Regions from separate parts of the Homo sapiens genome. Here region 1 is linked to region 2. The links come from fine-mapping of genetic effects on gene expression. A gene starts in region 2. The other region holds a variant in brackets. All regions are shown on one strand. Distances are between the middles of the regions.

Region 1 (2,907 bases), 130 kb after region 2:
GTTTATTTGGTATCTACAATGTGCCAGACACTGAGCACATGACTTAGATGGAATGACTTGCTGAAATCATGGAGGCAGTAAGTGATATCCACATGCATGTCTGTCTGATAGCCAAGCACCTTCTCATTCCTCGTACCAGGGGTTCATGAACTCAGAGGATTAGAGTGCTTTGATTCTCAGTCTTTGTCATCTTGCCTGCAGCCCAGTACTTCTAGGCTCGCTTTCTTGGTGGTTCATACCCCAACTCTAAGCCTGTAAGAATAATCGGCGTCAAGGTAAAGTTCCCTTTGTCACCAGCCCTTGGTATTAGTTCGCTATATTAAAATAGGTCTTTAATTTAAAAAGCAGAGGAGGGAGAGAACTAAACATTGAAAGAGTTTATACATTTCTAATTGTGAATGTTTGGCAAGGCTTAAAGGCATATGATGGCTCCCATTTCAACACAGACACTTCTCAGGAATTCCTGCCAACGTTGTTCCCCATCAGTCCTTAGTCCCTTCTCTGCCTCCTTCTCACCTGGAAACGGTTTGAGGCAAGTGTACCTCTCATACACGTAATCTAGATTGGGATTCTTAACTTGGGATTTATGGATGGGTTTCTGGAGCCTGTGAATTTCTAGAAATTGAAAAATGTAGTTGGATTGTTGTGTGTGCTTTTTTCTGGGGAATGGGTTAACAGATTTTATCACATTCACAAAGAAGCTGGTGACTCGAAAGCACTAGAGGTGAACATGGAACTTCCATGTGAGAAACTTCCTTTAGAGGTAAGTGCTAGGATAAGTTTTGCCTCCTCTAAAGGGACCAGTGTGCTTTTTACTTCTTCTAATGTTGTTCTAATGATACCATTAGAACATTTCTTTTTTTTTTCCCATTTTCATTTTATTGGAATTATTTCTACCTGAATCAACTCAGCTTTGTGTAAATGTTATAGGAAGAGAAGATTCATTGAGCAGTTACGTTTTATTACAGAAAAAAAAAAAGAATTGACTTTCATACCAATTATCGTATTGGCCATAGGACATTTTGTAGGGGGCTATGATGTAGAATGACAGAAGGAAAGACGAAACCTGAAGGGCATCTTTACTAGGTGTGAGCTCGAATGTCTTTCTGGGACAAATGTCCGTGAGGTCAAGTGATGAGGTCCAAACAACCTGCTTCACTGTCTCTGGCAGGAAAAGATCTTGGGGCAGGAGGAAGCAAGCCCCTTATAGAGTAAAAAGAAGTTGCCATCATTTTGTGGGCTGTTGTGCTGTCACAGGATATAGTTAATAGGAAAATGCAGACATCAGTGAATTAGAAAACCCACTTCAGCAGTCCCCCTCTTCTCATGGCCCAAGTGAGGATCAAATGTGACTCATCGTGAAGTGATCCTTGTCTATCAAGTCCTACAGGCTTCCCTCCATCACTGAGTGACTCAGGACATGAGCTCTCATTGCCATGCAGAGTGGCTCTTGGCTTGGGTGGCAGGGGCCCTGGGAGCAGTTCCCTAGCTCTGGAAACATCTGTGCCACTTGACCTCATGGGCCCCTGTATTTATTTGAATAACTACTGGAGGATAATGTTGATTAAAAAAAAAAAAAGATGATGTGGTATACTGGAAAGAACATCGGATTTGGGGTCAGTCAACCGTGGTTCAAATCCCAAAGTCTTCCCACCTTTAGTAAAAGACATATTTAACACTTGGGGGTAGCTGGGCATGGTGGCACAAGCCTGTAGTCCCAGCTA[C/T]TCAGGAAGCTGAGGTGGGAGAATTCCTTGGGCCCAAGAGTTCGAGGCCAGCCTGGGCAACCCAGTGAGACTTCATCTGTTAAAAAAAGACAAAAACAAAAAACACTGTGGGAGAGGGAGGAGATGTTTGCTGGGCCCCTGAGTTAGGTCCATTTCCTCTCTGTTTCCCATCCCTTCTAGAAACTTGTTTATTTTCCCTTGTTGCATCTGTGGCAAGATATAGGTCTCGTGGAAAGGGGACAGTGAGATCATTGGCCTGTTTTGTCCTAATCTAGGCCTGAGGCCTGTCTGTCCTGGGTTCATACTTGGTCGAGCCCAGCTCACCGAGATAAGAGTGTGGGGACAAAGGCCCAGCTAGAATAAAGTTTTTCTTTGCCTAGCACTGGTGGTTTTTAGGGAACCTCCTTAGAAGACAGGTAATGTTTGATCACTTGTCTTTTTCTCTATCTTGCTAATGCAGTTGTGATGGCTGGTACTCTAGCATCCATCTTAGAACAGGAGGATGAGGTACATACATTAGACAGAGTGATAAGCTGGATCCAGAGGATTGAGAAACTGCCAAATAGCCCTAGATCATCAGCTTCTAGCATTATTTTAATTCAGAAAGAAAGAAACTTCTGTCTTATTTAAGTCACTGTTAGGTTTTTCTGTCACATGGGATCCAACCCTAATTAATCTGGTGGTCACACTTTTGGGTTCTAAAGTCAAATTACGTAGGTTGCAGTTTCAACTCTGTCATTCTATGGGCTTCAATTTGGGAAAATTTCATAACCCCTATAAATCTCCAGTTTTTTTTTTCTGTGAAATGGGGGTTATCATTGTGTTTATAGGCATGGTATAATGAATGGTACATGTTCAGCGCTCACTAAATATTTACTGTTATGTTGTTGTTACTGTTATTGTTGTCATCATCCTGGGGCATTTTATAACCTTGGAGAACTTTTTGGGGGTAGCTATAAGGAGGGTAGGAGTCATGTGTTTAGGATCCTGGGGGTCTATCCCTCAATCTTTTTCCATAAGAGAAACAACTCATACGTTCAGAGAAGGCACTTTCTCTCCCTTCCACATCTAAAGTGCAGCTAATGATATTTGTGCCTTGTTGGGAAAATTAAATGAGAAAATATATGCGAAGCAGCCCATACAATGCACAAAGCATACATTCCACAAATGTTAGTTCTTATCT
Region 2 (2,907 bases):
GCTTGGAGGGGACAAGGTGGGGGTTTCAGCTCTCGCCTGTGTCTCCAGTGAACAGGCGAGGCAGAGTCCCGTTGAGTAGGAACCTGAGCATTTGGCCTTCTCAACCTTCCAGCCTCTTGGCTATCTATATACACTCAGACAGTGTGACATTTAGATCCTCAGGCCGCCAGTCTGTCCACTGAGCTGAGACCTTCAGGCTTCTCCAGGGGCTCAAGGACCCACTTTAAGGCCTGGGGAACCCTTAGTTCACTTCTGGGAAGGACTGTGTTCCCTTTTTCTAGCCTGCTCCCCAGCCCCCTTCCAGTGTCTTCTGGGTGGCGCTGGAGGTGGGTGGGTGGGGAGACTCTATAGGAATCAAGCCTGACACATGGTCTCTTTCCAGCTCTTCCCAGCCCCACTGCTGTCCCGTCTCATTTTCAAAACCAGACAAATCACTGGAAGTTGGGAGAAGTTCCATCAAGAAGGGGGACTTTATCACACAGTTGGAATTCTGACTCAAGTGTCTTGGCTTAGGGTCATTTTGGCTTGGGGTAATATCCCTGGTGTTCAACCTCCTAACTCCAGCCCGGAGTAGAGTCCTAAATCCTAATGGACTGCCCCACCCCCTGAGTTTTGGGAGCCTCTGTCCTGGCCTGTCTTTAAGAGATGTGTGGAAGCCGAGAAACCCAGGAGTTCTCCGGTAAAGGGACGCCCACCCAGGAGTGAGAAGCAGGGTGGTGCAGTGGGAAGGGCCATGGTCCGGTTTCTGCGTCTAGCTTAGCCTGGGTGCAGTCACTGGCACTCCAGATCAAGGGGTTCTCTTCCAGCCAGGTTGACAAGGTCTTGGGCACTCCCAGCCAACACCGTTACCCCCGCGTCCCCACCCTCGTACCTGCAGCACGTTGGGGTGCCGCAGCCGCTCCAGCAGCACCATCTCCTTAAGCAGCTTGTGGGCCGCCAGCCGATAGCAGCCCCTCCGTACCCCGAACTCGCGCACGCAGCTGCCCAGATCGTGGCCGCTAAAGTCCACCGCCTTGAGCGCCACCGCGGCACCGCCGGGCAGGCGGACCCGGTACACGGCCTTGGTGTAGCCTGAGCCCATGTACTGCGCGCCGGACACGTTGCGAAGCGCGGCGCAGCCCAGGCGCGGGCCCGGGCCGGGGGAGCCTGGGCCGGGAGCCGGGGGCCAGCCTGGGGCGCCGTCGGACAGGGGCCGGGCCCAAGGGGGCCGGGGGCGCGGCAGGCCGGGCCCGCCCGGAGCCAGGTCCATCAGGCGCCGCCGCTCCGGCCGGCCCGCCCCGGGCCCGGGGCCCCCGCGGGAATAGCGCTGCACCTCCTCGTAGCGCGCCCGGATCTGCCGGGCCAGCTCCCCGCGGCCCCCGCGACGGCCCGGACCCGGGGCCGGCGAAGGCTCAGGGGACTGGCCTGGCCTCGGAGGCTCCGAGCCCGGAGCGAAGAGCACGTTGAGGACGGAGCCCAGCAGGAAGGAGGCGCAGAAACCCGCGGCCACTGCCGCCCGCCGGCGCCGCATCGCTCCCCTCCCCCCGGCCGGCCGGCCCCGCGCGGCTCCCCGGCCCCGGCCCCGGGCGGCTCAGGCTCCGAGGCGGCTCCGCTCTGCGCCCCGCCGGCCCCCTGCCCAGCCCGCGCGCATGGCCCCGGCGGCCCCGACCCCGGCCCCTCGCGGGCGACACATCGGCCTGACACTTGCCTCCCTGCCGCCCTGCCCCCGCCGCTTATAAGGCCCAGAGCCGCCCCCCGCCCCCGCCCCCGCCCCCTCCCCCGCCCCCTCCCCCGCCCCTCCGCCTCCACCTCCCAGCTCCCGGCCCGAGCCCGTCCTCGGCGCCGCCCCCTCCGGCCGCCCGGCCCGGCCTTCCCCGCTGACTGACAGCGGGACCTCCTCCCGCGGCCGTCCGGGCCTGGGAAGCGGCGCGGAGGCGGCTCCGGTCCTGCCCAGCCCGCGGTCCCGCCCAGCCCGCGGTCCCCCGAGCTCCGTCTGGGAGCGGGGGAGGGGGCGGCGGCGGCCAGGAGGCGCGCGGGGGCTCCGCGCCCAACGCGAGGGCGGATAACGGGGCCGGGGCGGCCGGATAACGGGATTGGGAGGTGGATAACGGAGCCGGCCGGGCGGAGTGGGGGAAAGATAAAGGGGCGAGGCCGGCGGGTAGCGGGCTCCGGAGGGGACGAGCAGCTAAGTCCGGGGTGCGGAGATCCGAGTGATCTCAGCGCTCCCTCCTGGGACTGGGGGCCTCGGGGCGGTTTGGGCGCAGGGAAGGCGCGTGGACCCCGTCTCTCGCGGGTGGGGCCGGGGGTGGCGGCTCCTCGCTCAGCCCCGGATTCCGGATTGGGGCGATGGTGAGGGGGAAGCGGGCACAGCCGGGCCAGCACCTGCGAGCGCGCGTGGGACAGGAGCTCTAGGCATAGAGGAATGCTCGTGAGCTCGCCGAGGATGCCCTGTTCAACTCCTTTTACCAAAGTGTTTCTGATTTTCCTTGCCTCTAAAGCCCCAAATGCAGCTGGGGGTCGCTCCCTACCCCTCAAGATGCCTGGGGTCTGACGGGGTCAGCCGCGTATAAGAAACCATGTGCATGCTAGTAGCTTGGGCAAAGAGTGCGTTTGTGCCCACGGACGGCTGTCTGTGGAGTGTGTGCCTCGGCGTGTCTGAAGGGGCCATTGTGTCCGATGAAGGGAATGTGTACCTTGTGTGTAAGTTGGTGCTGACGCCACCAGAACTTCGGTCCCTCCTCCTCCCTCCCTGATTGCATCATTAGTGCTAATTGAGGGGCTTTCACACGCCAGTGCACTAGCTGTTTGGAGTGAGCTCCCCCCTCCTGGGAGAGATAAGCCGCTGCCCCTCCCCCTCGCAGCTCTCCTCTTCCCCGCCACTCTGAAACTGCCCACCTAGATCCTCTCACCTTCCTGGGCAGCTTCCTG

Direction of the effects. Positions count from the first base shown, and alleles are read on the strand shown. Sizes are in standard deviations (SD) of each study's normalised expression.
For the expression in left ventricle of the gene that starts at base 1,689 in region 2, allele T in region 1 goes with a higher level than allele C (moderate effect, 0.49 SD a copy in GTEx).

The links. PIP is the estimated chance that this variant, and not a neighbour inherited with it, causes the effect.
Region 1: its variant is the best candidate, but not a certain one, in a credible set for the expression of PKDCC in left ventricle (GTEx, PIP 0.62).

The regions. Positions count from the first base shown.
Region 1 is chr2:41,919,517-41,922,423 of GRCh38, reverse strand. No RefSeq gene overlaps it. Among named protein-coding and RNA genes, the nearest start is that of LINC01914, 13 kb to the left of the region's middle. The variant C/T (reference allele first, on the strand shown) is at 1,725.
Region 2 is chr2:42,046,803-42,049,709 of GRCh38, reverse strand. It overlaps PKDCC (protein kinase domain containing, cytoplasmic), which reads right to left and starts at 1,689. Exons shown (of 7, transcript NM_138370.3): 1 at 872-1,689. The coding sequence starts at 1,510. RefSeq lists enhancers at 1-87, 801-1,060, 2,561-2,680, 2,304-2,808, 2,809-2,907 and silencers at 1,101-1,170, 1,301-1,400, 1,411-1,590, 1,741-1,990, 2,101-2,390.